Regions from separate parts of the Homo sapiens genome. Here regions 1 and 3 are each linked to region 2. Evidence: fine-mapped expression QTL. A gene starts in region 2. Each other region holds a variant in brackets. All regions are shown on one strand. Distances are between the middles of the regions. Region 1 holds the start of PCDHA4 (protocadherin alpha 4). Region 2 holds the start of IK (IK cytokine). Region 3 overlaps ANKHD1-EIF4EBP3 (ANKHD1-EIF4EBP3 readthrough).

Evidence for each region. PIP is the estimated chance that this variant, and not a neighbour inherited with it, causes the effect. A credible set is the group of variants that fine-mapping cannot tell apart.
Region 1: its variant is the best candidate, but not a certain one, in a credible set for the expression of IK in skeletal muscle (FUSION, PIP 0.56).
Region 3: its variant is the best candidate, but not a certain one, in a credible set for the expression of IK in fibroblasts (GTEx, PIP 0.59).

What each region holds. Positions count from the first base shown.
Region 1 is chr5:140,802,150-140,812,520 of GRCh38, reverse strand. All of the region lies in intron 1 of PCDHA1 (protocadherin alpha 1), which reads right to left. All of the region lies in intron 1 of PCDHA2 (protocadherin alpha 2), which reads right to left. PCDHA3 (protocadherin alpha 3) reads right to left here. Exons shown (of 4, transcript NM_018906.3): 1 at 8,930-10,371. It overlaps PCDHA4 (protocadherin alpha 4), which reads right to left and starts at 5,453. Exons shown (of 4, transcript NM_018907.4): 1 at 2,949-5,453. The coding sequence starts at 5,333. It also overlaps PCDHA@. The variant C/G (reference allele first, on the strand shown) is at 5,668.
Region 2 is chr5:140,643,519-140,653,889 of GRCh38, reverse strand. It overlaps IK (IK cytokine), which reads right to left and starts at 6,061. Exons shown (of 20, transcript NM_006083.4): 1 at 5,966-6,061; 2 at 5,353-5,419; 3 at 2,084-2,176; 4 at 1,743-1,802; 5 at 746-913. The coding sequence starts at 5,981. It overlaps NDUFA2 (NADH:ubiquinone oxidoreductase subunit A2), which reads left to right and starts at 6,260. Exons shown (of 3, transcript NM_002488.5): 1 at 6,260-6,407; 2 at 6,528-6,634; 3 at 8,212-8,605. The coding sequence starts at 6,307. The coding sequence ends at 8,303. MIR3655 (microRNA 3655) reads right to left here and starts at 6,046; the gene lies at 5,964-6,046. TMCO6 (transmembrane and coiled-coil domains 6) reads right to left here. Exons shown (of 12, transcript NM_018502.5): 8 at 10,215-10,326; 9 at 9,924-10,110; 10 at 9,696-9,790; 11 at 9,150-9,317; 12 at 8,486-8,905. The coding sequence ends at 8,792. RefSeq lists enhancers at 5,987-6,522, 6,263-6,682.
Region 3 is chr5:140,510,324-140,520,694 of GRCh38, reverse strand. It overlaps ANKHD1-EIF4EBP3 (ANKHD1-EIF4EBP3 readthrough), which reads right to left. Exons shown (of 36, transcript NM_020690.6): 23 at 7,772-7,867; 24 at 7,216-7,332. ANKHD1 (ankyrin repeat and KH domain containing 1) reads right to left here. Exons shown (of 34, transcript NM_017747.3): 23 at 7,772-7,867; 24 at 7,216-7,332. Among named protein-coding and RNA genes, the nearest start is that of EIF4EBP3, 32 kb to the left of the region's middle. The variant T/C (reference allele first, on the strand shown) is at 4,769.

The DNA of each region.
Region 1 (10,371 bases), 160 kb before region 2:
GAAGCCCAAAGCAAAGGGAGGAAATACTATAATAAAGATTAGAGCAAAAATAAATGAAAAAAAGTTTAAATTAAGTTTTTAAACTTAGTTGATTTTTTGAAAAAACAACAAAACTGACAAGCCCCTTAGCTAGACTAAGAAAAAAACAAAAAGACTGGAAGTCAGAAACAAAAGAGGTGGCATTACACCTGATGCCACAATTATAAGAGGCTTTTAAAATCATATACCAAAAAATTCAATAACCTAGAAGAAATTGATTAATTCCTAGAAACATACAAACTACCAAGACATAATCATAAAAAATCTAAACAAAGCTGTAACTAGTAAGGAGATTGAATCAGTAATCCAAACCTCCTAACAACAACAACAACAAAAGCCCAAAACCAGATATCTTTCCTGGAGAATTCTACCAAACTTTTAAAGAAGAATCAATGATAATTGTTTTCAAACTCTTCCAAAAAAAAAAAATTGAAGGAGAGGGAACACTTCCAAACTCATTTTAAAAGTCCAACAAAAAAATGGTAGTAAAAAATAAATCTTCAAAAGAAACTACAATCAGAGTGAACAGGCAACCTACAGAATGGGAGAAAATTTTTGCAATCTACCCATCTGACAAAGGGCTAATATCCAGAATCTACAAAGAACCTAAACACATTTACAAGAAAAAAACAAAAAACCCTATCAAAAAGTGGGCAAAGGATATGAACAGACACTTCTCAAAAGAAGACATTTATGCAGCCAACAGACACATGAAAAAATGCCCATCATCACTGGTCATCAGAGAAATGCAAATCAAAACCACAATGAGATACCATCTCACACCAGTTAGAATGGCAATCATTAAAAAGTCAGGAAACAACACATGCTGGAGAGGATGTGGAGAAATAGTAACGCTTTTACACCGTTGGTGGGAGTGTAAACTAGTTCAACCATTGTGGAAGACAGTGTGGCGATTCCTCAAGGATCTGGAACTAGAAATACCATTTGACCCATTACTGGGTATATATCTAAAGGATTATAAATCATGCTACTATAAAGACACATGCACATGTATGTTTATTGCGACACTATTCACAATAGCAAAGACTTGGAACCAACCCAAATGTCCATCAATGATAGACCGGATTAAGAAAATGTGACACATATACACCATGGAAGACTATGCAGCCGTAAAAAAGGGTGAGTTCATGTCCTTTGTAGAGACATGGATGAAGCTGGAAACCGTCATTCTGAGCAAACTATCACAAGCACAGAAAACCAAACACTGCATGTTCTCACTCATAGGTGGGAATTGAACAACGAGAGCACTTGGACACAGGGTGGGGAACATCACACACTGGGGCCTGTTGAGGTGTGGGGGACTGGGGGAGGGATAGCATTAGGAGAAATACCTAATGTAAATGATGAGTTGATGGGTGCAGCAAACGAACATGGCACACATGTATACCTATGTAACAAACCTGCACGTTGTGCACATGTATCCTAGAACTTAAAGTATAATAAAAATAATAAGAAGAAATAAAAATAAATCTTGACCCCTACCTCACAACAATGATAAAAATATGTATATTCCAAATGGATTGTAGATGTAATGTAAACAATGAAATAAAAGATACCACAGAAAATTATCTTTGTGAAATAGGATCAGAAGCAAAAATTGATAAATTGAGTTTAATCAAAATTATGACTTTCTATTCACCAAAAGACAAAAAAGAATTAAAAACTAGCCATGAGGTTGAAAACTACTAAAAAAAGGAGTTATGTTCAGAATACAAGATTTGTTTAAGTAATAAGAAAAACAAGATAAGGAAATAAATAAAGTTCTATGGAAGCAAAAAGAAGAGAAAAAAGAAAAGAAAAACAACAGACTAGAGAAATAGGAGATTTGAGCAGCTATTGCACAAAATAAGGTATAAAAATTGCCAAAATAAAATAGAAAGGTACTCAACTTCATTTAAATATAAAATAATTTCAAAATGAGATTACAAAAGTCACCCAGTAAAATGGCTAACATGAAAATAACCTGACAAATGTAGAGATGATGTGGCCCAGCAGAAAGCCTTATGCACTACTAGGAATGTAAACAGGTAAAAACATCTTGGAAAATTGGTTGGTGTTAGCTACAAAAGACAAAGATACACACATATTCTGTGACCCACAAACACAACTCTTAGGCAAAAACCTGAGAGAAATCTGTGTACATGGGCATCAAAGAAATGTACAATATATTTATGATGGCATTATTTGAAATAGACATTGAGGCACAATGCAAATTCCTGAACAGTAGAATAAATAAGGTATAGTATATTTATGAAATAGTACTAGAAACAGAAATAAATAAACTACAACTACATATAACAACATGGATAATTTCATAAACAATGAGTGATAAATACAAATAACACACAAATGCACAGACAATACATGTTGTGCAAGTCCAATTAGATAACGTTCCCAAAACAGGCCCCGAACAAACAGTTATAAAAGGCAAATGTGCGGTTACACTGGAGGAAAAATAAGGGAAGTGATTTGGCAGGTGCATGCGAGGGGCTTCAGCGATGGAGGCAACGGAGCTTTTCACTTTCATACAATTTATGGAGCTTTATTATTTCAGCCTGTGCACATTTGTTTATATGTAATAGGTTAAATAATAGTAAAATGTTTTCTAAAATGTTGATTATTACCAAAAACAAAGAGGGTGAATATAGTGAAAATTTACTAGAAATTACAGTTCTGTTAATATGCATTGAATAATGCAGCATAAAATGAAGGAAGGCAATATATATTGCTCTGATGTCCTATAATTCCAAAAGACTTTAGTTAAAATGGATATGTAAAAAGAGGTAAAATTTTAACCCAGGGAAATTTGACTCTTAGAAATAAATTTACGAAGAAGTTGATAGAGAAAAACAATACGAAAATTAAACAAAAGGATGTTATACACTAACCTTTGCAAAGGATTCCTCAGTTGTCTGCAGCTGATCTTCTCTGTCCCTAGAGTCAGGTAAACTGGGGCTGAAGGCCATGAGGTCGGTCTTGGGTGGGCCCTCACCAGAGCACACCCTCGGCCTCCTCTGCTGCGAGTATGACCAGCTCCCCACCGCACTGGAGCACACCAGCGTGGGCTTGCCCGGAGCGCACGCGCCCTCGGTGGGCAGCGCAGAGCACCGCAGCGCGGTGTACAGCAGCAGCGTGAGCACCAAAAGGCTGGACACCGCGCAGATGGCAATGATCAGGTATACGTTGACATCCACCAGCGCAGCATCGGGACCCACAGCGCCCACCAACGCCCGTGAGGAGGCCTTTGGCGCCTGTCCACTCTCCACAAGTGACACCAGCACAGTGGCCGTGGCCGTCAGCGCGGGCTCGCCGTGGTCCTTCACCAGTACCAGTAGGCGGTGGCGCGGAGCGTCCGTTTCGTCCAGGGCACGCGTTGTGCTGATCTCGCCAGTGTACAGCCCCACGCGGAACGGGATGCGCGCGCCACCAGTCCCCGGCTGCAGCTCGTACGAAAGCCACGCGTTGTAGCCCGAGTCAGCATCCACCGCGCGCACCTTTGCCACCACGTGGCCCACACCCACCGACCATGGCACCAGCTCGCTCACTGCGCCACCAGTGCCACCCGCCCGAGGCGCTAGCAGTGCTGGCGCGTTGTCGTTTTCGTCCAGCACGAACACCTGCAGCGTCACGTTGCTGCCCAGAGGTGGCACGCCGGCATCGCGAGCGGTCACCTGAAACTGCAGCAGCTCTAGCTCCTCGTGGTCCAGCGGCTGCAGCGCGTACACCTTGCCGCTCTCCGCATGCACCGAAACGTAGCTCGACAGCGCGCGCTCCCCTACCCGCCGCTCTACCAGCGAGTAGGACACCAGCGCGTTCTCCTGCGCGTCCGCGTCCCACGCAGACACAGTGAAGATGTGGCAGCCCGGCGGGTTGTTCTCCTTCACGAACACTGTGTACTCGGGCTGCGCGAACGCCGGAGCGTTGTCGTTCACATCAGCCACCTCCACAGAAACACTGGCCGTGGCCCACAGCGAAGGCGAGCCCCCGTCTCGCGCGGTCACCACCAGCTCATAGGCTGACACGCTCTCGCGGTCCAGGGCACTGTCCAGCACCAACGAGTAGTAATTCTTGAAGGTGGACACCAGCTTGAAGGGGACGTGGGACGTCAAGGAGCAGGTGACCAGCCCATTGACACCCATGTCTTTGTCGGACACGCTGATCAGGGCGATGACTGTACCCAGTGGAGCGTCCTCTCTAATTGGAAGTGATAAAGACTTGAATTCCAAATCTGGGACATTATCGTTGTTGTCTTCTACTTCCACAATAACTCTACAATGGCCAGAAAGTGGGAGCTGTCCCTTATCAATGCCCTCTACAATAATTTCATAGGATTTGCTTTCTTCAAAGTCAATATATCCCTTTACAATAATTTGTCCAGTAATTGGATCTATGTGAAACTTGGATTTCACATTTGGCGAAATATCATTTGAGAATGAATAAACAATGTCCCCATTCAATCCTTCGTCTAAATCTGAGGCGTTAAGTTTAATTACCAATGTTCCATTAGGAACATTTTCTAGTAATCTCACCTTATAAATGGTTCTGTCAAAAGCTGGGGCATTGTCATTGGCATCCAGTACTGTGATGAGTAACTGAACGGTGCCAGTCAACTCGGGTTTGCCTCCATCAGTGGCTGTGAGCACTAAAAAAATCTCCGGAGCTTCTTCTCTGTCTAAAGATTTCCGTAATATAAGCCCAAGACCTTTTACCAGCTCGTCATCAGGTGGTTTTTCCAGAGAAAAGTATTCATTTGGGCTCAGTCTGTAAGTGAGCAGGGCGTTCTCCCCGATATCTGCATCCGAGGCGCCCTCTAGTGGAAACCGAGAGTCAAGCGGCCTGGATTCCGCGATGGACAGGTTCTTTTGTGTTGCTGGGAACACCGGCGGGTTATCGTTAATGTCCCTCACCTCCACGTCCACATGGAAAACCTGCAGCGGCCTGTCTACGATCACCTCCAGGTGGATGCTGCACTCCGCGCTCCGCCGGCACAGCTCCTCCCGGTCGATCCGAGAATTCACAAACAAAATGCCATTCTGCAGATTTACCTCCAGAAGGCCTCCGCGGCCCTTGGACGCCACCCGGAACAGGCGCGGCACCAGCTCCGCCAGCTCCAGTCCCAGGTCCTGCGCGATGCGGCCCACGAAGGTGCCGTGTTTGGCCTCCTCGGAGACCGAGTAGTGGAGCTGACCGTTCCCTGCCTCCCAGGCTGCGAGGAGAAGAAGTAAGAGCAGCAGACGCCGGGATTCCTGGCCGCTTCCCCAGGAAAACTCCATCTTTAGTGCACAGTATTTTGTTCTGATTAAATATCGTTTCTCAAAGTCAAGGGAAATCTTTTAATCGGTCAGTCAAGTGCAGCTGCATCCTCCATATTTCAGACTCCAAAGAGTGTATATGGTTCCTTCCAGTAAGAATAGAAGGAATTTTCCCTTCTTCCTCCTTCTCTCATGTATTTTGTGGTAAAGAGCGACATCATGTGGCTCCAAACCGTAAGTAGCAATTGTGGAAACCCCCACACACTCTACTGTAAACTACTTGGTTTTATTTATTATTTCAGTCGTTTCGGAGAATAGGAATACATTTTGTACTACTGTGGTACACATTGTACCA[C/G]TGATTGATTGAGTGTGGTCCTTAGTTTCGCCATAGGGGCAACTTTTACTTCAGTAGAAATAATTTTTTCAACACAGGTTTTAAGTATTACAGAGACCTAACTATACACTTTGTAAACATGTAACTGTAAACTGTTGATTAGAAAAATTCATTACAGATTCCTGTGTTCCCAAGAATTCCAGGGTTTTTTTTTATTAATGATAACACCCTCTTCACCCTAGTATTTCTGGTGTTGTTGACTTGAGGGGACTGGTCTCTAGGGAACTTCTGGTGCCAAGAACAAGCTATTGACAGGGAAATTTGCAGATGTTTTATAAAAGGATCAAAGACCATCAGCATTTAATTAGATGTCTTCCTTGAGTCATGTCAGGGCTGAAAGTGCAAGGAAGCAGGAAGTTATAGCAAATAGCTTGCATGGAAAAGCATTCCAAATAATTTTATTCATTGGAACTCATTTGCTCCCATGAGAAACGCTGGTATTCTCATTTTGACTCTTACAGTTTATAAGTACTTGCTTGTTCTCCAGTATGTAATGTGCCTAAGCTTCTATTTTCTCCTATAGTGCTTATATATTTTAGCCAAACTGAATATTTCCTGCTTCCAATAGCTTTTTTTAATAAACAAGCATGTTCATTTTGTCCTGTCTATAAGTAATCCACATCATTTCTAAACTCTTCTAAAGCCAATTTACCCCATTTTATAACCACTTAAAACTTCCCTGACCCATGAAGAATGTCATGATCAAACCAATTGAACAGGTATTTTTTCTTCTTTTACAAACTGCAGCACCAGGGTGGAATCGCGTGGGCCATTTATTACATTAATTTATCTCTTATAAGCATTTGAGTATGTGTGTCCTTTTTTGGAATATATATTTTAAAGGGAATAGTTGTATCTTAATTGTTTAATAGCTCAGAGGGACTTACCTAATATTTCCTAAATATTTACCCTGCAGAAAATGTTTGCTTCCTTCCATTGCCTAATAAAATGCATTAATTTAAGGTGATCGCATATCTAGTTGGGAAAATGTGGTGTTTCAATAGCCTCTATGATTTTCTAAAGATACAAAAAAAGTCTCTAGACATTTCCCCAATTAAGATGTATTTCAAGTTCAATGTTGAAAACTTGGGTTTTAGCTTAATTTTTATTCTAATTCTTGGTAATCATGATCTTTGAATCATCCTGGGTATTAATGGGGAATGAAGACTTCCCAATAAATAAACCACAATACATTTTCTTACATAAAGAAATTTAATATATAAAGACATAATGGTAGCCATTTAAAAACTTTCCTTGCCTCCTATATCCATAAAGTTATTTTCATCCTGTTTGTCTAAACAAAAAATCAATCTAGTGAAAATAGCTTTACGCTCCCTCTCTATTGAAGAACTACACTCACACAAACACACACACACAAAAACCAAAACAACAACAAAAAACCCACCAAATTTCTGAATCAAACAGAAACCAGAGTACTTTCACTATGTGGGGACCCAAACTATATTTTTACAAAATGATCATTGACATCAAGCACATTGGAAAAAAGGAGGAAGAATTCCATTTTCACCCATTTCATTTGTAATATTTTCATTTACCAGGTATTTTAATGTACAGATGGGGAATGCAGCAGAATAGAAAACAATGTTTATTTGGTAGCTATTCAATATTTATTTGGCATAGCATCAGTACATCTGTGAAGTGAAAATTCCAAAGTCTTCAAAATGTCTTTGCCAAGAGTCTTGTTAGACAATAGTTTCAAGAGGCAAGCTGGATTTGAAGATTGAAGTTCCATATCTGGGAAGACAAGTACTTTGGCTGACTCTATTATATTCAAGAAGCTGATAACAGAACTAAATTTTTAAAATACTGACCTGAGATGGACACACTATGGCTACTACTTCATGGACAAGGGAGCAACAAAGGATAGTGCCAAAAAAGGAAATAAAGAAAATGGAAGTGAGGGGAAGGAGAGGAGTCAAGAAAAATATCTATTTTACGTGTTAGACCTCCCACACTGTCAATGAGTATTAACCAGGTTTCAGTTGGTTACTATTTCTCTCCAGTGGTAGGGAAACTTAAATGGGAGTCCAACTAATTGCTAGAGGAGATAACCAAATATGTAGGGGTAGTGATTAGAAAAAAGTCTACCTTCAATTTCATTTGGTTCTGGTTATTTGGAGTTTTCTACTTATTGCATGGCACACATTAATAGGCAGGATGCTATTCAGAGAAGTTAACCAGTAATAACATTATAACATTGGCTTATCAAACTTATTTCATATTAGCATCCTTAGTATGGTATGCAAAAGACACTAATGAATAAAAAGTTTTGCTAGTAGGGATAGTTTTAAAATTAGATACCATAATTATTTTCAAGATATTGTTCAGATTGAAAATTATTTTTAACAAGATTTAAAACATTCTTTTAAAATGAATATATAAATATACTATACAACTATTAAATTTTCACTTCATATTGATATTTTAGTTATTAGTAATAAATTTTAACATATAATACAGTAGTATTATTAAAGTAGTATTAAATAAAGTAGTGATAAACTAAAGATGAACAAAGATGCAATTCTAAATGCAATTGTTATTCTCGATTTTTTTCCCAACTGGGAAATCAAGAAACAATAAACGGTATTGCCAAATTAGAGCACAAGGCCTAAAATGAATCATATTCAAGTAAAAAATAAGGATTGAGACTCCAAACAAGTGAATAAGAGAATAAAAGAGGTTCCATAAAAGACAACAGGTGTAATGATCTAATTTTTGAAACTGAAGGTGGAAAAGCATAATCAATAGGGAGTTATAAGCATTAGGTGAACTCATAAAATGAGCAAGTAACATTTGTACTAACAGGTAGTAGGAAGTCCAAATGAAAAGTGGCAAAAGATATTGAAGAAGCATTGTATAGGGATAAGTATAAAACAAGTCGAAGTCAGATTCTCTAAATAATGCAATTCATCTAAGAAAAAATATTTGTCTTATACCCAGGCATTTAGCAATAAAATAATTCTACTACTGCACCTAATAACAAAACAAAATTACAAGTGTGGATATCATAACTTACTGCTGATTTGGTTCAAAAATTAGCAACAAAAATCTTACCGTTTTAACCACAAAACCACAAAACTGGAAAAGTCTAATTATGAATCACATAATTCATACTTAACTATTAATGTATTTCCAGAGGAGTGGAAACATTGAGGAATGAAAAACAAAGACATTTTGGAAAGAATAAATAAAAATTACTCACTTTGGCTGAGAGATCAACGTCCACATCCTGTTTCTCCTCTCTATCCCGGCTAATTGGACAAGGAGGAAGGCTAGGGCTAAAAGCCATGAGGTCGGTCTTGGGCAACCCCTCTCCAGAGCACACCCTCTGCTGCCTCTGCTGCGAGTATGACCAGCTCCCCACCGCGCTGGAGCACACCAGCGTGGGCTTGCCCGGCCCACAGTCGCCTTCGGTTGGCGGCGCGGAGCACCGCAGAGCAGTATATAGCAGCAGTGTGAGCACCAACAGACTGGACACCGCGCAGATGGCGACGATCAAGTACACGTTGACATCCACCAGTGCAGCTTCCGGGCCCGTGGCGCCAGCGGACGCCTGGGACGAGGCCTTGGGTGCCTGGCCACTCTCCACCAGCGACACCAGCACAGTGGCCGTGGCGGTCAATGAGGGTTCACCGTGGTCCTTCACCAGCACCAGTAGGCGATGGCGCGGGGCGTCCACCTCGTCCAGGGCACGGGTCGTGCTGATCTCTCCCGTGTACAGCCCCACGCGAAACGGGATGCGCGCACCGCCGGTCCCAGGCTGCAGCTCATACGAAAGCCACGCGTTGTAGCCTGAGTCTGCATCCACTGCGCGCACCTTCGCTACCACGTGGCCCGCACCCACTGACCGCGGCACCAGCTCGCTCACTGCGCCACCGATGCCACCCACCCGAGGCATCAGCAGTGCCGGCGCGTTGTCGTTCTCGTCCAGCACGAACACCTGCAGCGTCACGTTGCTGCCCAGAGGCGGCACGCCCGCATCGCGCGCACTCACCTGGAACTGCAGCAGCTCTAGCTCCTCGTGGTCCAGCGGCTGCAGCGCGTACACCTTGCCGCTCTCCGCGTGTACCGACACGTAGCTCGACAGCGCGCGCTCCCCCACCCGCCGTTCCACCAGCGAGTAGGACACCAGGGCGTTCTCCTGCGCGTCCGCGTCCCGCGCAGACACCGTGAAGATGTGGCAGCCCGGCGGGTTGTTCTCCTTCACGAACACCGTGTACTCGGACTGCGAGAATGCCGGCGCATTGTCGTTCACGTCGGCCACCTCCACGGACACGCTGGCCGTGGCCCACAGTGAAGGCGAGCCCCCGTCCCGAGCAGTCACCACCAGCTCATAGGCCGACACGCTCTCGCGGTCCAGAGGGCTGTCCAGCACCAATGAGTAGTAATTCTTGAAGGTGGACACCAGCTTGAAGGGGACGTGGGGCGTCAGCGAGCAGGTGACCTGTCCATTGACTCCTGAGTCGCGGTCGGACACGCTGATCAGAGCGATGACTGTGCTAAGTGGAGAGTCTTCTAATACAGGTAAAGATAGTGATTGAATAACTAACTCAGGTACATTATCATTGATGTCCACAATTTCGAGTAGAACTGTGCAGTGATCTGACATTGGGGGATTTCCTTTATCCGTGGCTTCTACCTGGA
Region 2 (10,371 bases):
GGATCACGCCTGTAATCCCAGTACTCTGGGAGGTCAAGGCGGACAGATCACAAGGTCAGGAGTTTGAGACCAGCCTGGTGGATATGGTGAAACCCCATCTCTACTAAAAATACAAAAATTAGCTGGGCATGGTGGTGGGCGCCTGTAGTCCCAGCTACTCGGGAGGCTGAGGCAAGAGAATCGCCTGAACATGGGAGGCGGAGGCTGCAGTGAGCTGAGATCGCGCTACTGCACTCCAGCCTGGGCAACAAGAGCAAGACTCTGTCTCCAAAAAAAAAAAAAGGGGGTGGGGGAAAGGGGGTTGGGGGGCCAGGTGCGGTGGCTCACGCCTGTAATCCCAGCACTTCAGCAGGCCGAGGCGGGTGGATCATGAGGTCAGATCGAGACCAGCCTGGCTAACACGGTGAAACCCTGTCTCTACTAAAAATACAAAAAATTAGCCGGGCGTGGTGGCGGGCGCCTGTAGTCCCAGCTACTCGGGAGGCTGAGGCAGGAGAATGGCATGAACCTGGGAGGCGGAGCTTGCCATGAGCCAAGATCGTGCCACTGCAGTCCAGCCTGGGTGACAGAGCGAGACTCCATCTCAAAAAAAAAAAAAAAAAAGAACAGCCCTTTGTGGGTGGCAAATGCCTCTGAAATCGCTTATTGTAGGCTCCAGGGCAGGAAAGTAAGAGGAAGAGTTCACATTGTATTTGCATGACTCTCGGATGCTGAGGGAACCATGCCCTGTTCCCTCAGTACTCACGCCTCAGCAGTGGGGCCAACAGCCCTATAGTTAGCTGTGGTGCTGATAAGCTCGGTTTCTTCATAATCTTTGTTCACTCCATCTCTCCGTTCCTTGGCACGATCCCGGTACTTCTCTGCTAGCTCTCTCTCTCTCTCAATTTCTTGTTGGCGTAGCTTGGCATAATAACTGTGACCAGAGAAAGGCAAATGTATAAGGCTCATCAGCTGCTACCTCAAGGTCAACAGAACTGTTCCTGCTTGCTTCCCTACATCTCCAACCTACTCTCTATGGGGAAAAGCTCATGTCTGTCCTGATAGAACTGCTGGCCACCTCTTCGTAGTTACTCAAAATCAGAACTACAACTTCTTCCAGCTTATAGATATACTTTTCCAGTGCCAACTTGGGACACTCCATCTGTCACTTCAGAACTTTTTAATACCACCCAACTCTACCAATTCTCTATAGATATAAGACTTTTCCACACAAAAATCAGAAAATCTTCTGAATTTTTACCACCTTCTAAATTTCAGCTGAAAAGAACGTATTATTTGCTGGTCCACTCTCAGAATAAAGGAAAAGCCAAGTACCAGGTCCTGAAACTTTCGTATCATATAAATAACGATGATGATATAATAATGATGATGGCCGTCAAGATTTATTGGGTGGTTACCATATGCCAGGCATTGGTGCTAAATGCCTACATGTACTTTCACAGCTGATCCTCATGACATCCTGATAAAAGTTATTATTGCTACTGTATCTCCATTCTATCTGTGGATTAGAGAGGCTAAGCAAATGTCTAGGTTATCCACCAAGAAACTAGCGAAGATGAGATTAAAATATAGATAGGCCTATTCCAAAGCCCTCTACTGCCACTCTAAGTATCACTCTGTTTCATTAAGAAAGTAGAGAGCCTCAAGACAAAATCTTAGTTTCTAGCTTCATAATTAGCCCCTACTTCTTTCCCCTAAACACTATCCACCTTAAAATCTAAAACCCTTCACCCTTCCTTCACCTTTTCTTTTTCCTCCTTCGTGCAGCTGGGTCTTCATCCTCATTGTACTCCCTTGGCATCCTAGAAGAGACGAGAAATTCACTGATAGCAAAATATTGCCACAGCCCCAGAAACCCCAAGAAGTCTCCTTGAGGATTTTTAGAAAGACCTAGAATACTGATCAAAGTAACACTTTCAATCAAGCAGAAATCCACACCAATATTTGTAGGTGGGCAGTTCTCAAACTTTAGAGAGTATCATAAATACCTGAGGGACTATTAAAAGTCATTCTACTTAGTAGAAAGAAATAGGAAGGAGCAAGAAACAAGTTGGGAGACAGGTTGGATCACCCAAAGACTTACTCATGGTGACGTGACTTAGAAGGTGGTGCAGAGGTAGGTGCAGCCCTGGGGGTCATGAGAAGTTTCCTGAAGTCTTCATTGGTGAGTTTTGATCTAGAAGAAAAGGCAAAGATTTTAAATATTAGGACTCAATAAGAAATGAAAAAGGAACAAGTAAAAATCATGATTAAATTAACAGAAATCAGGGAAATACAAATTAAAACAAAGATATGACACTGTTTTTTTTTTTTTGAGACGGAGTCTCACTGTCACCCATATTGGCCAGGCTGGTCTTGAACTCCTGACCTTGTGATCCACCCACCTCGGCCTCCCAAAGTGCTGGGATTATAGGGATGAGCCACCGCACCCAGCTTTTTTTTTTTTTTTTTAAGACAGAGTCTCCCTCTGTTGCCCCGGCTGGAGTGCAGTGGCATGATCTCAGCCCACTGCAACCTCTGCCTCCTGGGTTCAAGTAATTCTCCTGCCTCAGCCTCACAAGTAGCTGGGAATACAGGTGCCCGCCAACACACCCAGCTAATTTTTGTATTTTTATTAGAGGTGTTGGCCAGGCTGGTCCCAAACTTCTGACCTCAGGTGATCTGCCCACCTCAGCCTCCCAAAGTGCTGGGATTATAGGTGTAAGCCACCACGCCCGACCAGATATGCCATGCCACTTTTAATGCATCAGAGTGTTAACTACCAGAAAGTTTGATAAATCAAGTGTGAGTGAGAATTTGGGAAGGGGACTCTCTCATATAATGCTGATGAGAATGTAAACCAGTATAACCAATTTGAAGGGCAATTTTGCAGTATTTGTTAAAATTTAAGTATATATATCCTATGAGCCAGCAACTCCATTTATTTATATTTAGCCTGGTCCATTACTGACATATGTATATAAGAAGGCCTGTAAATTTAATTCAGTTATAGCCTTGAAAATAATCAGTCTGGCCGGGTGCAGTGGCTCACACCTATAATCGCCGCACTTTGGGAGGCTGACGCAGGCGGATCACCCGAGGTCAGGAGTTCAAGACCAGCATGGCCAACATGGTGATATCCCATCTCTACTAAAAATACAAAAAAATTAGCTGGGCGTTGTGGTGGGCGCCTGTAATCCTAGCTACTCAGGAGGCTGAGGCAGGAAAATCGCTTGAACCTGGGAGGCGGAGTTTGCAGTGAGCCGAGATCTAGGTATTACACTCCAGCCTGGGCAAAAAGAGCAAGACTCTGTCTCAAAAAAATAAAAAAAAGAAAAGAATCAGTCTGAAACAGACTAAGCGTTTATTAGCTGGAGACTGACTAAACTATGATGGTGTTTCCCAAAGAGGGAAAGACAGCACTAATGGTACAAGAGATTATTTTAATTGGTACACTAACAAAGACTCCTCTCTTGATCAAATTAAAGTCAGACTCCTTTAAAGCTCTCTTCTGACTAGGGCTCTTCCTTGGCCTGCTGACCTCAGTTTTAAAAAGGAATCCTAAGTCAGTTCACAGAAAGTTTTCCCACTCTTGATATCCAATCCAACTTGATATCTAATCAAGTTCCTCTTCTCCCCAAGGAAGACTTTATTGAAGACTACTGTAACAAGAGTCAAGACCATTGTAATAGAGTAGAGAGACTGAACTTAATTCCGAATACAACAGGGACAAGTGAGAATTTATAGAAAATTACTAAAAGCAACTTGGTTAGGTATGGGGGTGGAGCGGTGGTTGATTTCTTTGTTAAAACTGTGCTCAGCAGGCCACGGATGAGTCCTGCTGAAAAATGGGACTCTTTGGGGAACCTGACTAAAGTTTAGCCAAGGAGGGAATGCTTGTCACTGCTCTGAAAGATAATCTCAGAAACACTGAGCAGGGTTTAAAAAGAAGCAAGTTGCAAAAATGATATATACAGCATAATATCATTTAACTCAAATATTTTAAATCACAAAGCAATGTTGTGTTTTCCTCAGATATGCATGTATGTGTATAAATGCATTTAAAAAAGAGTAGGAGGGCCAGGCGCAGTGGCTCACGCCTGTAATCCCAGCACTTTGGGCCGCCGAGACGGGCAGATCATTTGAGGTCAGGAGTTCAAGACCAGCCTGGCCAACATAGCGAAACCCTGTCTCTACTAATACAAAAATTAGCCAAGCATGGTGGGGCATGCCTGTAATCCCAGCTACTGGGGAAACTGAGGCAGAAGAATTGCTTGAGCCCAGGAGGCAAAGGTTGCTGTGAGCAGAAATAATGCCATTGAACTCCAGCCTGGGCAACGGGAGGAAAAGATATGCCAAAAAAGGTAACTGTGGTTACTTCTAAGAAAAGGACTGAGGCTGGGCACGGTGGCTCACGCCTGTAATGCCAGCACTTTAGGAGGCTGAGGCGGGTGGATCACTTCAGGCCAGGAGTTCAAGACCAGCCTGACGAACACAGTGAAACCCTGTCTCTACTAAAAATACAAAAAAAAAAATCAGTCGTGCATGGTGGCACATGCCTGTAGTCCCAGCTACTTGGGAGGCTGAGGCAGGAGAACCGCTTGAACTCAGGAGGCAGAGGTTGCAGTGAGCCAAGATTGCATCACTGCACTCCAGCCTGGGTAACAGTGAGACTCCGTCTCAAAAAAAAAAAAAAAGAAAGAAAAGAAAAGAAAAGAAAAAAAAAAAGAAATGGACTGGAATTGGGGATGTTATCAAAGATGATTTTATCGGGGGCCAGGCACGGTGGCTCACGCCTGTACTCCCACCACTTTGGGAGGCAGAGGCGGGTGGATCACCTGAAGTCGGGATTTCAAGACCAGCCTGATCAACATGGAGAAACCCCATCTCTACTAAAAATACAAAATTAGCCGGGCGTAGTGGAACATGCCTGTAATCCCAGCTACTCGGAAGGCTGAGGCAGGAGAATTGCTTGAACCCGGGAGGCGGAGGTTGTGGTGAGCCGAGATCGCACCACTGCATTCCAGCCTGAGCAACAAGAGCGAAACTCAGTCTCAAAAAAAATAAAAAGATGATTTTACCCTTATTTCCTATGTTTTAATTTGCTATTGGAAGAAGTAATTCCTATATAATGTGTAATTACACAACACGTATAAAAAAAAAAAAAAACTTAACACCTTTCCTGCAGGAATTTCCCTTCTAATACCCTTATGCACTTGGCCTGATCCAGTTAAGGCTCACAGAGATAAAGGGCCAGCGGGTATAATTTTTTACCATCCTTGATGACAAGACATTCAGAATTCTTTCACCATCACCACCACTTTTCTATTCATTGCCCAACTCATTTCCATGGTCCTAGCACAAAATACTCACTGGTGGAAGGAGTGAGGATCATCCACATCGTGGCCATCGGGGGCCAAAGGGTTGGAGAACGGCTCACCTGACAAAAAAAATTGACGTTAATTTAATCAGTCTCTTACGTGTCAGATCCTATGCAAAAATTTGAGATATAGTAGTGAACAATACAGAACAAAAGTTAGAACAGCGACAGTGTCAACACAATGTAATAAGTGCTGAAATAGGAAACTACAAGAAGCTGTGGGAGCACAAAGCAGAGGACCCTAATCCTGCGCTGGAGGATCAGAGAAGACTTCCGGAAGATCACGTCTAAAATACTACGTAAAAGATAAATACGCGCAACCCAGGATTAAGTATGGGGACAGGACTGGGGGAAAGCGATCCACGCACAAAAGCCGCCCATCATCACTTGGAGTAGGAGTGAGGACTGGGGACGGAGTTTGGAGCTGTCGGCCTCACTTAGGACCCTGTGGCTTCTCCGGGCTCAAGCGTCACACATACATACATACACACACACACACACACACACACACACACACACACACCCGGCTTAAGCTCAGAAGCTACAATAATGCGCCAAGTGCCCCAAGTGCCATGGGGAAGAAATAACGGATGGCCTGAGCCTTACTATCTCGCTCCGGCATTTTGTTATCGTTCTTTCGCTGTCACCAACAATCGAGTCTCCAACAGCAACACCGCAGCGACAAGCTCTTTCCCACAGTGCACCTCAGAATCAACCCACACTGCTTTGCGTTCGCAGCCTTTCCGCTTCCTGTTTTTCCCTCCGACCAACCCCGAGCGCAAAGAAATTGACCTCGCAGCGGTCCTACAATACTTTTATATCATTGGCCAAGCTTTACCCCGCCCCTGCCTCATGCAGCCTATGGGCTAGGCTTTAGGGTCCGCGGTTGGTCAGACCGGAGCACTTGGCCTGAAGACCTGGAATTGGCGACTTCGATATTAACAAGGATGGCGGCGGCCGCAGCAAGTCGAGGAGTCGGGGCAAAGCTGGGCCTGCGTGAGATTCGCATCCACTTATGTCAGCGCTCGCCCGGCAGCCAGGGCGTCAGGTGAGGCGCGGCGTGGTGAGGCGGGCGGGCTTCGGGACGCCAGGGTCACGACCTCGACCTCCCTGAAGTTGAGGGAAGCCCCCGCCCACAGCACGCGCGGCGCTCTCTCCGGCCCCGCAGGGACTTCATTGAGAAACGCTACGTGGAGCTGAAGAAGGCGAATCCCGACCTACCCATCCTAATCCGCGAATGCTCCGATGTGCAGCCCAAGCTCTGGGCCCGCTACGGTGAGTGCGGGACGCCAGGGGTCTGGGGCTCCGGTAGGGGAACAAGGGTTTGAGAAGAGAAGGGACCGCCCAAGGTCGTGCAGAAACCCGTGGAGAAACTAGAACTCGGACTTTAGCCTTGCTGTTGATCTTGTTTCCATGAAGAAATTTATATTCGCAGGGTTATATGATGCGTTGTATTCCGGGCAACATAAGTATGCAGGCTGACCGAATCCTGCGTAGGGACCAGGAGCTGACGTTTTTGTAGTTAAGAATGGGCTTCAGACAGGAGAGAAGTTAGTCAATATAGTTTCTCCAAATAACGTGTAGCCAGTGTCAGTCCAGGTAGTGTGTGAGAATCTCAGTAATTTTGCACATAGAGCTGGGCCCTGTGCTGAGTGCTTCCCTGCCTAACTCATTTAATCTTCATTAGTTAGGAGGAAGCGTGTTCTTCTTTTCTCACTGTAGAGATTAGAAAACGGAATCAAAACTTTGTTTTGCACTATTGTTAAACTCTAGCTGCAACTTTAGATGCAGCTAGAGTTTAACAGGATTGAGCCTTTACATTTATTCCCCTTCCTAGAATGCACTTACCCCTCTAAGACTGGCATGGCAATGTATTGCAAAATGAAATTTTCCTATCATGTTGCCTAACACATTGTAGGTATGCAATAAATGTTTATACATACTGAATAACAGGATTTTAATCACAGCTTTTAACTATATGGTGCCCTGGGAATGACGGGAGGAGGTGGAGGAGAGTGACCACCTTAAGCAGATTGGTTCTCAGAGTAGATATCTGTGAGACACAGTAGACATTAGACATGCACTAATAATTGGAGAAGGAAAAAAGCTTCTCCTTCCAAAAGCCAGTAGACTACAGGAGGAGATAGACACGAGTAACTTTAGTGTATTGTGCTGGGTATTATGTTAGATAGCCTATGGGAGCCTAGAGAATGGGTACCCAGCTGGGTGCGGTGGTTCACGCCTGTAATCCCAGCACTTTGGGAGGCTGAAGCAGGTGGATCACCTGAGGTCAGGAGTTCAAGACCAGCCTGGCCAACATGGTAAAACCCCGTCTCTACTAAACATACAAAAATTAGCCGGGTGTGGTGGCGGGCACCTGTAATCCCAGCTACTCAGGAGGCTGAGGCAGGAGAATTGCTTGAACCCAGGAGGTGGAGGTTGCAGTGAGTGGAGATCGTGCCACCACACTCCAGCCTGGGTGACAGAGCGAGACTCCGTCTCAAAAAAAAAAAAAAAAAAAGAGAGAGAATGGGCTCCCAGCTGAGGCTGGACCCATGCAATACATTGCTCACCGTAGTTAATAATAAATGCCTACAGTGCCCCCGAAAGCTTCCCTGAAACAACCCATTGCGGCCATCCAGAATCAGCCAAAATTCTATTTGGACTTGGGCTTCCTAGATGTGTTTGAGACCTATTGTATTAATTCTAGGCATACCAAATGTATTTTGATCATATCTCTTTAATACTCTTCCTGTCTTAACAAGACTAAGATAAAGACAAAGATCTTTTATTTTACTTTGGTAGCCTCCAGGGTGCAGAATAGTTAAAGACACCTCCCTCTCTCTCTTCAGCATTTGGCCAAGAGACGAATGTCCCTTTGAACAACTTCAGTGCTGATCAGGTAACCAGAGCCCTGGAGAACGTTCTAAGTGGTAAAGCCTGAAGCCTCCACTGAGGATTAAGAGCAACAGCCCCAGAGCCTGGGCTCTGCTGGACTTAGTATAATGTGAAAAAAATGTGTTCTCCTATTCCTCATAAAGCTTGTGCTGTAAAATACTTTCTCAGGGTGTTCTTGTCCTCATCTACCCTCTACCCCTTACTGTGCAACCACTGAGGCAAAGTAGCTTAATATAAAAATAAAACTTTATTCTGTCTCATCAAAAGCTACCAGCTGCTGAAGCAAACATGAAGGGTGGCGGGGGGGCAGGGATTCTAGGGCCCCAGAGTAAGTAGACCACACTGAGTCCCTTTTGGTCCTCCTGCCTGGATAGTGCTGAGTGGAAGGGGAGGAGCTGGGACCCAAAGGTCTTGGCTTAGGTGTGGGAGCAGAGAACATGAGACCTCATTATGGTCCTAAATCTCCAAAGGCTCTACTGGACAAACAAGCTTGATGTTAAGAGAGAGGGGAATGAGTGACATTGAGAAACAAGATCACCCTTGAAGAGCTGTCTGCTGGAGAGCATACACACGATCCTGGAGCTGGGCCTCTTCCTGATGCCTTTCCAGGGCTTGCAGCCCTGACTGCTGCAGGAAGACCTGAACAGCCTAGGGGCAGGGAAGAAAATTCAACACACCTGGTCTCTGTGTCCTAAGACTCAATTCCCACAGCCTCATGGGTCAGCCTACTCCAGAGGGTGCATTCCCCAACAAGAGGATGAAGTTTCTGACATGGAACCTATATAGGTTAGCCAGGCCCAGAGAAACAACTATAGTTAGGACTGGATGGGAAGGGAGCCACTGTGTGGCTTCAGAACAGGGGTGACTGAGGATGTGGGCCAGAAACCTATACCTCTGGCTGATACAGGAACAGCAGATGCAGCAGCTCCAAACTCTGGCCTACTACTTCAGTGTCAGAAAAGGCTAGTGTGTGCAGCAAGGCGGGAAGCAGGGGCCCTGGCCACAGCCGCTGGCAGTAAGCAGGACCCTTTTCTGCAACATTGCACAGAACTGTGAGCACCTGCAGATAGACACATATATAGTCTACAAAGAATGAAACACAAAGATCATAACAATAGCTAAAATATATGACATGGTGACCACATGCCCAGGCACCATGCCAAGCTCTTCTACATACATGTTCTCATACTCCTACAACTACCCTATGATGCAAGATTATCCTCAGTTATAAGTGAGGAGACTGAAGCTTAAGGTGGTTAGTTGATTTGTCCAAGGATAAATAATCCAGTTTAAGGGACACACACCTAGATTGGTTGGGCCCTGAGGCCACACACCACCACCTGCTGGCTCTCAACTAAGGGTACATCTGAGGGCTCAGGACTGCTGTCCCATACAATCCGACTACCAGATCTTGGATTCAAGTAACCCCAATACATACCATTACGCTCACCACGTTAGATACTGGCAACAGCTGTAAGAGAGGCTCAATCAGATCCAGGGAGAGCAAGGAGGTACAGAAACTAGGACTGTTTGCTGGAAGAGAAGTACCAGGGTGAAAAACTGCTTTCCCCCACCACCCCTGTCAATACTACCCACCTCAGCCTAGGCCATGAGGAAATATCCCCATTATCCAAATGTCCAGGCCTGGGCAGATTATGGTGCGTACCAGTGAGGTTGTTGAGGAGCCAAAGGCCCTCAGGGAGCAGACTGGGCTGTTTCTGGAAAAAGAACTGCAGAAGGATAAATAAGGCTGCCACAACACGCTCATCTCTGAGCTGCATTTGCCCTCCCACAGTCTCCACTGCTGCCTCAGTTAGCAGGTTGCTTAGACATCGAAGCACGGGGCATGCCAGCTGCAAAGACAAATTGGGGGGTCAGGTGTAAGAAGGAAGAGGTTACCTGCATTCCAGAGTATCAAGAAACATCTCCCAGAATTTCACCTGACATCTTCACCTACCAGCTCCAGTCCTGCATCCTCGGTTTTCTGGACAGCCCCAGCCAAGTCCAACAGCAGCAACCCCAGAGTAGACAGAGCCCCATGGCCAATGAGCAGAGGATTGCTGACCTGGCTGGGCAACAGGAAGCAAGCAGTCCCTAGGTATATAGTCAATTCC
Region 3 (10,371 bases), 130 kb after region 2:
GTGTTTGGTTTTTTGTTCTTGCAATAGTTTACTGAGAATGATGATTTCCAATTTCATCCATGTCCCCACAAAGGACATGAACTCATCATTTTTTATGGCTGCATAGTATTCCATGGTGTATATGTGCCACATTTTCTTAATCCAGTCTATCATTGCTGGACATTTGGGTTGGTTCCAAGTCTTTGCTATTGTGAATAATGCCGCAATAAACATACGTGTGCATGTGTCTTTATAGTAGCATGATTTATAGTCCTTTGGGTATATACCCAGTAATAGGATGGCTGGGTCAAATGGTATTTCTAGTTCTAGATCCCTGAGGAATCGCCACACTGACTTCCACAATGGTTGAACTAGTTTAGAGTCCCACCAACAGTGTAAAAGTGTTCCTATTTCTCCACATCCTCTCCAGCACCTGTTGTTTCCTGACTTTTTAATGATCGCCATTCTAACTGGTGTGAGATGGTATCTCATTGTGGTTTTGATTTGCGTTTCTCTGATGGCCAGTGATGAGGAGCATTTTTTCATGTGTTTTTTGGCTGCATAAATGTCTTCTTTTGAGAAGTGTCTGTTCATGTCCTTTGCCCACTTTTTGATGGGGTTGTTTGTTTTTTTCTTGTAAATTTGTTTGAGTTCATTGTAGATTCTGGATATTAGCCCTTTGTCAGATGAGTAGGTTGCGAAAATTTTCTCCCATTTTGTAGGTTGCCTGTTCACTCTGATAGTAGTTTCTTTTGCTGTGCAGAAGCTCTTTAGTTTAATTAGATCCCATTTGTCAATTTTGGCTTTTGTTGCCATTGCTTTTGGTGTTTTAGACATGAGGTCCTTGCCCATGCCTATGTCCTGAATGGTAATGCCTAGGTTTTCTTCTAGGGTTTTTATGGTTTTAGGTCTAACGTTTAAGTCTTTAATCCATCTTGAACTGATTTTTGTATAAGGTGTAAGGAAGGGATCCAGTTTCAGCTTTCTACATATGGCTAGCCAGTTTTCCCAGCACCATGTATTAAATAGGGAATCCTTTCCCCATTGCTTGTTTTTCTCAGGTTTGTCAAAGATCAGATAGTTGTAGACATGCGGCGTTATTTCTGAGGGCTCTGTTCTGTTCCATTGATCTATATCTCTGTTTTGGTACCAGTAACATTCTGTTTTGGTTACTGTAGCCTTGTAGTATAGTTGGAAGTCAGGTAGTGTGATGCCTCCAGCTTTGTTCTTTTGGCGTAGGACTGACTTGGCGATGTGGGCTCTTTTTTGGTGCCATATGAACTTTAAAGTAGTTATTCCAATTCTGTGAAGAAAGTCATTGGTAGCTTGATGGGGATGGCATTGAATCGGTAAATTACCTTGGGCAGTATGGCCATTTTCACGATACTGATTCTTCCTACTCATGAGCATGGAATGTTCTTCCATTTGTTTGTATCCTCTTTTATTTCACTGAGCAGTGGTTTGTAGTTCTCCTTGAAGAGGTCCTTTACATCCCTTGTAAGTTGGATTCCTAGGTATTTTATTCTCTTTGAAGCAATTGTGAATGGGAGTTCACTCATGATTTGGCTCTCTGTTGTTGGTGTATAAGAATGCTTGTGATTTTTGTACATTGATTTTGTATCCTGAAACTTTGCTGAAGTTGCTTATCAGCTTAAGGAGATTTTGGGCTGAGACAATGGGGTTTTCTAGATATACAATCATGTCGTCTGCAAACAGGGACAATTTGACTTCCTCTTTTCCTAATTGAATACCCTTTATTTCCTTCTCCTGCCTATTTGCCCTGGCCAGAACTTCCAACACTATGTTGAATAAGAGTGGTGAGAGAGGGCATCCCTGTCTTGTGCCCGTTTTCAAAGGGAACGCTTCCAGTTTTTGCCCATTCAGTATGATATTGGCTGTGGGGTTGTCATAGATAGCTCTTATTATTTTGAGATACGTCCCATCAATACCTAATTTATTGAGTTTTTAGCATGAAGGGTTGTTGAATTTTGTCAAAGGCCTTTTCTGCATCTATTGAGATAATCATGTGGTTTTGTCTTTGGTTCTGTTTATATGCTGGATTACTTTTATTGATTTGCGTATACTGAACCAGCCTTGCATCCCAGGGATGAAGCCCACTTGATCATGGTGGATAAGCTTTTTGATGTGCTGCTGGATTCGGTTTGCCAGTATTTTATTGAGGATTTTTGCATCAATGTTCATCAAGGATATTGGTCTAAAATTCTCTTATTTGGTTGTGTCTCTGCCCGGCTTTGGTATCAGGATGATGCTGGCCTCATAAAATGAGTTAGGGAGGATTCCCTCTTTTTCTATTGATTGGAATAGTTTCAGAAGGAATGGTACCAGCTCCTCCTTGTACCTCTGGTAGAATTCGGCTGTGAATCCATCTGGTCTTGGACTCTTTTTGGTTGGTAAGCTATTGATTATTGCCACAATTTCAGCTCCTGTTCTTGGTCTATTCAGAGATTCAACTTCTTCCTGGTTTAGTCTTGGGAGAGTGTATGTGTCGAGGAATTTATCCATTTCTTCTAGATTTTCTAGTTTATTTGCGTAGAGGTGTTTGTAGTATTCTCTGACGGTAGTTTGTATTTCTGTAGGATCAGTGGTGATATCCCCTTTATCATTTTTTATTGCATCTATTTGATTCTTCTTTTTTTCTTTATTAGTCTTGCTAGTGGTCTATCAATTTTGTTGATCCTTTCAAAAAACCAGCTCCTGGATTCGTTAATTTTTTGAAGGGTTTTTTTGTGTCTCTATTTCCTTCAGTTCTGCTCTGATTTTAGTTATTTCTTGCCTTCTGCTAGCTTTTGAATGTGTTTGCTCTTGCTTTTCTAGTTCTTTTAATTGTGATGTTAGGGTGTCAATTTTGGATCTTTCCTGCTTTCTCTTGTGGGCATTTAGTGCTATAAATTTCCCTCTACACACTGCTTTGAATGTGTCCCAGAGATTCTGGTATGTTGTGTCCTTGTTCTCGTTGGTTTCAAAGAACATCTTTATTTCTGCCTTCATTTCGTTATGTACCCAGTAGTCATTCAGGAGCAGGTTGTTCAGTTTCCATGTAGTTGAGCGGTTTTGAGTGAGATTCTTAATCCTGAGTTCTAGTTTGATTGCACTGTGGTCTGAGAGATAGTTTGTTATAATTTCTGTTCTTTTACATTTGCTGAGGAGAGCTTTACTTCCAAGTATGTGGTCAATTTTGGAATAGGTGTGGTGTGGTGCTGAAAAAAATGTATATTCTGTTGATTTGGGGTGGAGGGTTCTGTAGATGTCTATTAGGTCCGCTTGGTGCAGAGCTGAGTTCAATTCCTGGGTATCCTTGCTGACTTTCTGTCTCGTTGATCTGTCTAATGTTGACAGTGGGGTGTTAAAGTCTCCCATTATTAATGTGTGGGAGTCTAAGTCTCTTTGTAGGTCACTCAGGACTTGCTTTATGAATCTGGGTGCTCCTGTATTGGGTGCATATATATTTAGGATAGTTAGCTCTTCTTGTTGAATTGATCCCTTTACCATTATGTAATGGCCTTCTTTGTCTCTTTTGATCTTTGTTGGTTTAAAGTCTGTTTTATCAGAGGCTAGGATTGCAACCCCTGCCTTTTTTTGTTTTCCATTTGCTTGGTAGATCTTCCTCCATCCTTTTATTTTGAGCCTATGTGTGTCTCTGCACGTGAGATGGGTTTCCTGAATACAGCACACTGATGGGTCTTGACTCTTTATCCAATTTGCCAGTCTGTGTCTTTTAATTGGAGCATTTAATCCGTTTACATTTAAAGTTAATATTGTTATGTGTGAATTTGATCCTGTCATTATGATGTTAGCTGTTTATTTTGCTCGTTAGTTGATGCAGTTTCTTCCTAGTCTCGATGGTCTTTACATTTTGGCATGATTTTGCAGCGGCTGGTACCGGTTGTTCCTTTCCATGTTTAGTGCTTCCTTCAGGAGCTCTTTTAGGGCAGGCCTGGTGGTGACAAAATCTCTCAGCATTTGCTTCTCTGTAAAGTATTTTATTTCTCCTTCACTTACAAAGCTTAGTTTGGCTGGATATGAAATTCTGGGTTGAAAATTCTTTTCTTTAAGAATGTTGAATATTGGCCCCCACTCTCTTCTGGCTTGTAGAGTTTCTGCCGAGAGATCTGCTGTTAGTCTGATGGGCTTCCCTTTGAGGGTAACCCGACCTTTCTCGCTGGCTGCCCTTAACATTTTTTCCTTCGACTTTGGTGAATCTGACAATTATGTGTCTTGGAGTCGCTCTTCTCGAGGAGTATCTTTGTGGCGTTCTCTGTATTTCCTGAATCGGAATGTTGGCCTGCCTTGCTAGATTGGGGAAGTTCTCCTGGATAATATCCTGCAGTGTTTTCCAACTTGGTTCCATTCTCCCTGTCACTTTCAGGTACACCAATCAGACGTAGATTTGGTCTTTTCACATAGTCCCATATTTCTTGGAGGCTTTGCTCGTTTCTTTTTATTCTTTTTTGTCTAAACTTCCCTTCTCGCTTCATTTTATTCATTTCATTTTCCATCGCTGATACCCTTTCTTCCAGTTGATCGCATGGGCTCCTGAGGCTTCTGCATTCTTCACGTAGTTCTCGAGCCTTGGTTTTCAGCTCCATCAGCTCCTTTAAGCACTTCTCTGTATTGGTTATTCTAGTTATACAATCTTCTAAATTTTTTTCAAAGTTTTCAACTTCTTTGCCTTTGGTTTGAATTTCCTCCCGTAGCTCAGAGTAATTTGATCGTCTGAGGCCTTCTTCTCTCAGCTCGTCAAAGTCATTCTCCGTCCAGCTTTGTTCCG[T/C]TGCTGGTGAGGAACTTTGTTCCTTTGGAGGAGGAGAGGCGCTCTGCTTTTTAGAGTTTCCAGTTTTTCTGCTCTGTTTTTTCCCCATCTTTTTGGTTTTATCTACTTTTGGTCTTTGATGATGGTGATGTACAGATGGGTTTTTGGTGTGGATGTCCTTTCTGTTTGTTAGTTTTCCTTCTAACAGACAGGACCCTCAGCTGCAGGTCTGTTGAAGTACCCGGCCGTGTGAGGTGTCAGTCTGACCCTGCTGGGGGGTGCCCCCCAGTTAGGCTGCTCAGGGGTCAGGGATCAGGGGTCAGGGACCCACTTGAGGAGGCAGTCTGCCCGTTCTCAGATCTCCAGCTGCGTGCTGGGAGAACCACTGCTCTCTTCAAAGCTCAGATGGAAATGCAGAAATCACCCGTCTTCTGCGTCGCTCACGCTGGGAGCTGTAGACCGGAGCTGCTCCTATTCGGCCACCTTGGCTCCTCCCGTCTTTTTTCTGGATAGTCTTTAATTGGGAATCTAATAAACCATTTGTAACCCAGATCTTAACAATAAACAAATGATTTCCAATGCTTTACTAAATTTCTTCACAGACCAATGTTAAAACCACTTAGGCAGTAATGATGTCATTTGGTAAAATGGGATTTTTTTTTTTTTTGGGGGGACAGAATCTAGCTCTGTCACCCAGGCTAGAGTGTAGTGGCGTGATCTCAGCTCACTGCAACTTCTGCCTCCCGGGTTCAAACAATTCTCCTGCCTCAGCCTCCTAAGTAGCTGGGGCTACAGGCATGCACTACCACACCCAGCTAATATTTGTATTTTTAGCAGAGACGGGGTTTCTCCATGTCGGCCAGGCTGGTCTCAAACTCTTAACCTCAGGTGATCTGCCCGCCTCGGCCTCCCAAAGTGCTGGGATTACAGGCATGAGCTACTGCGCCCAGACAGGACCTTTTTTTTTTTGAGACAGGGTCTTGCTCTGTCACCCAGGCTGGAGTGCAGTGGCTCATTGCACAATCATAGCTCATTGCAGCCTCAACCTCCCAGGCCCAAGAGATCCTCTCGCCTCAGCCTCCTGAGTAGCTGGGACTACAGGTGTGCACCTCTATGCCCGGTGAATTTTTTAAACTTTTAGTAGAGGCAAGGTCTCACTATGTTGCCCAGCCTGGTCTCGAACTCCTGAGCTCAAGCCATCCTCTAGCCTAGGCCTCCCAAAATGCTGGGATTACAGGTGTGAGCTACCGCTCCCAGCCGTAAATTGGGATCTTGCTCAAAATCTAGTCCTTCCCTTATATTTGGGCTCAAAATATATTTTTTTGAATGACAGGTCAGAATAAAAAATTGATGGTGGTTTAAGAATCTATTACCTATTTCCTTTGAATCATATATTATTAAGAATATTGGTCATATAGGCGACACGTTTACTCTAGCAGATTTTCTTTTTGTCTGAGATGGGGTCTCACTCTGTCACCCAGGCTAGAGCGCAGTGGCACAATCACAGGTCACTGCAACCTCTGCCTCCTGGGCTCAGGCCATCCTCCCACCTCACCCTCCCAAGTTGCTGGGACTACAGGCACCTGCCACCATGCCTGGCTAATTTTTTGTTTTTTGTAGAGATGGGGTTTTGCCATGTTGCCCAGGCTGGTCTCAAACTCTGGGGCTCAAGCAGTCCACCCTCCTCAGCCTCCCAAAGTGCTGGGATTACAGGCATGAGCCATGACATCTGTCAATTCCTTTTTTTTTTTTTTTTTTTTAATAGAGAGAGAGTCTCGATCTGTTGCCTAGGCTGGACTGCAGTGTGTAATTATGGCTCACTGGAGCCTCGAACTCCTGGACTCAAGTGATCCTTCCACTTCAGCCTCCTGAATAGCTAGGATTGCAGGCATGTACCACCATGCCCAACTGTTTTTTAAACTTTTTTTTGTAGAGATGGGGTCTCACTCTGTCACCCAGGCTAGAGTGCAGTGGCACAATCACAGCTCACTGCAACCTCTGCCTCCTGGGCTCAGGCCATCCTCTCTATGTTGACCAAACTGATCTCAAACTCCTAGGCTCAGCCTCCCAAAGTGCTGGGATTACAGGTGTGAGCCACCACGCCCACCCTCAATAATTTCTTTCTTTTTTTTTTTTTTTTTGAGACAGTCTCGCTCTGTCAGCCAGGCTGGAGTGCAGTGGCACGATCTCGACTCACTGCAACCTCTGCCTCCCGGGCTCAAGCAATTCTCCTGCCTCAGCCTCCCGAGTAGCTGGGATTACAGGGGTGTGCCACCACACCTGGCTAATTTTTGTATTTTTAGTAGAGACAGGGTTTCACCTTGTTAGCAAGGCTGGTCTTGAACTCCTGACCTCAGGTAATCCACCCGCCTTGGCCTTCTGAAGTGCTGGGATCATAGGCGTGAGCCACCGTGCCCGGCCCCCACCCTCAATAATTTCTAAAAAGGAAAATTATTTTTCCCACTCACCTTTTCCAGATCAAGTTCCTTTAAAAGAATACTCGCATTCTTATTTGCTTCTGCAGCTTGCTGGTCTTTAGCCTTCACAATGGTTTCGACACATTGATGACATTTTTTCAACAGTTCCTACAGCAGGAAATAGAATTATGTAAATATATAATGAAAGAGGCCAAATAAAACTTAAGCTGATGAGCACATTAAAGTCCAGAGGTTAAAGTTCAAACTGAAAAGTCACTAAACCAAATTAAGTTATCCTTTGAGTCCAATCTTTCACAAAAATAAGACACCATTTCCCTAAAAACCTGCATGTCCTTAGGAAGCCTTCTCATTAGGCTAATGGTTTAGTACCTTAGTGTAGTCACTGTGACTATGGTCCACAGTAGAAATCTCAAAATAGTTTATCAAAAGTATTATACCCCTCTATTTTGCAAATGGAGAAACAAACGCATAAAGAGATCAGGTGACCAACCTTTCAGAATATAAAAAGAACAAGTTCCTAACTGCACACTTTGGCATATCATTCCACAAAGAACAAAAATGTGCTTCAGTAGCATATTAAACTTACCTTATCTGTAATTGTTGCTATGTATCTCATGCATTCTATATCAGAAGGGAACTGATTTACTTCCTTTACCAAATATTGAACAACTTTTACATGACCCTATAAGAAGTACAACAATCTTAGACAAGGTAGCATGAAAAGAAAAATTATTATTCTTAAGAATAAAAGAAAGTAAAACAACAGAATTACAAAGGAATCCCTTGATTTTGCATATATGCCTACCAATTTAAGAATAAAAAGGCAAATACTTCCAAATAGAATATTAAGCTTAAAATTAAAATTATAAAAATAAGATCAGCATTCAGCTTATAAAAAGAAAGGCATAAAAGACAAGAATGTGTGCTCAGGAATGGATGGTGGACTAGACAACATTTCTCCTGAATTTAATCCCACTGAAATTAGAAAAAGCTTTTGTAGAAAAACAGTATCTCCTAGAATAAATCTATTAAACAAACATTGGTGATGTAAAATGAACCTCAGTGTAAAAGGGAAATGAGTCCTAAAATAAGTAATTTTTTTTTAAATTTCAAAGTCTTACTTTGCCTCTACTTCACTAACTAAACAAGGTGGACTATCACAACTTTCTGAGCCTTAGGACTTGAATCTAAATAAAACACTTTCTAAATGCCATTATCAAGGGTTGAAAGATCTGTAATCAATTCTAAGCATATCTTTTTTTTTTTTTTTTTGAGATGGGAGTCTCGCTGTTGTTGCCCCGGCTGGAGTGCCACGGCACGCTCTTGTCTCACTGCAACCTCCGCCTCCCGGGTTCTAGCAACTCTCCTGCCTCAGCCTCCGGAGTAGCTGAGATTACAGGTGCCTACCATCACGCCTGGCTAATTTTTGTATTTTTAGTAGAGACGGGGATTTACCATGTTGGCCAGGCTGGTCTTGAACTCCTGACCTCAGGTGATCCACCTGACTCGGCCTCCCAAAGTGCTGGGATTATGGGCGTGAGCCACCGCACCCGGCCAGCATATCTATTTTAATGTAACCAAGCTTGCATAGTTTCCCTTCCTACCAAGGTTCTAAAACATCCTTAAGAATTAGTGTGATGGAGATACAAATCAGAGAAATGCTTGCCTCTGGGGCAGGGAAGTGACTAAAAGTGGGCAAGAGGGAACCTTCTAGGGTTACAGAAATAATTTATATGTTTATGGGGTATGGGTTACATGTATGTATACGTTTATCAAAACTAAACCATGTACCTTAAGATTCATGCATTTCACTATATGTAAATTGCACTGTGCTAAACAACTGGGTATATAAACAGTGCTGAAAAAGATGGTCATGACTCTTGTCCTCATGGACCTACCAGTCTAGTTGGCGAGACAGGCATTAAAATGGTAAGTACATGTTTGAAGATATAATTACAAATTGGGGTAAGGAAAATCAAAACTCAACTATAAAAGAGAAACAGAGGGACCTTTTTCAGATTTGGTGTTAGAGAAATACTCTTTGAGAACTGACATGTAAAATTGGAGCTAACAGATGAGTAGAGAGGTGAGCTAGGTGAACAGCAAAGGAAATCATTTCAGGAAAAGAAAATCAGTGAGCAAAGGCCCTGAGGCAGTTGAAAATTTAGTGCATTCTAGGCCAGTAACTAGAAAACAGTGAGCAAAAGGGGATAGTAGCATAAATGATTTGTATGGGGAGGTTGACATGAAGCTTATTATGCAGGTCTTTACATGCCCTACTAAGTAGTTTATAGTTTGGGAAGCTATACCAATGGGAAGGCTTTTAAAAATACAGCAGATAAGTGAACTTTAATATATATGAGAGGCCGGGCATGAACTTTAATATATATGAGAGGCATGGCTCACGCCCATATCTCAGCACTTTGGCAGGCAGAGGTGGGAGAATCGCTGAGCCCAGGAGTTTGAGACCAGCCTGGGCAACATAGCAAGACCTCGTCTCTACAAAAAGTAAAAATAAAAAAAATCTGAGCATGGTAGTGACACCTGTGGTCCCAGCTACTCAGGAGGCTGAGGCGGGAGGATCAATTGAGCCTGGGAGGTTGAGGCTATAGTGAGCTATGATCATGCCACTGCACTCCAGCCTGGTTGACAGACTGAGACCGTTTCATACTCACACACACACACACACACGCACACAGAAGATACAGTAAGTTTTTATGAAAGTCTACTCCTTTTTGTTCCTCTTTAGGCACAAAAAAATCCATCTGCATATAATAGTTTTTCTTAAATCTTCTGTTTCATGAACAATGTATCACAAATAGTCAAGACACCAAGTGATTTAACAACCAAGTTGCTTATAGTGAACTACCACATAGATCTTAGATTTGGCCACAAAAGAATGGAAAGATAAGGTCGGGAGCCTGTAATCCTAGCACTTTGGGAGGCTGAGGCAGGCAGATCACAAAGTCAGGAGTTTGAGACCAGCCTGACCAACGTGGTGACACCCCATCTCTACTAAAAATACAAAAATTAGCCGGGTGTGGTGACGCATGCCTGTAATCCCAGCTACTCAGGAGGCTGAGGCAGGAGAATCACTTGAACCTGGGAGGCAGAGGTTGCAGTGAGCCGCGATCATGCCACTGCATTCTAGCCTATGTGACAGAGTAAGACTCCGTCTCAAAAAAA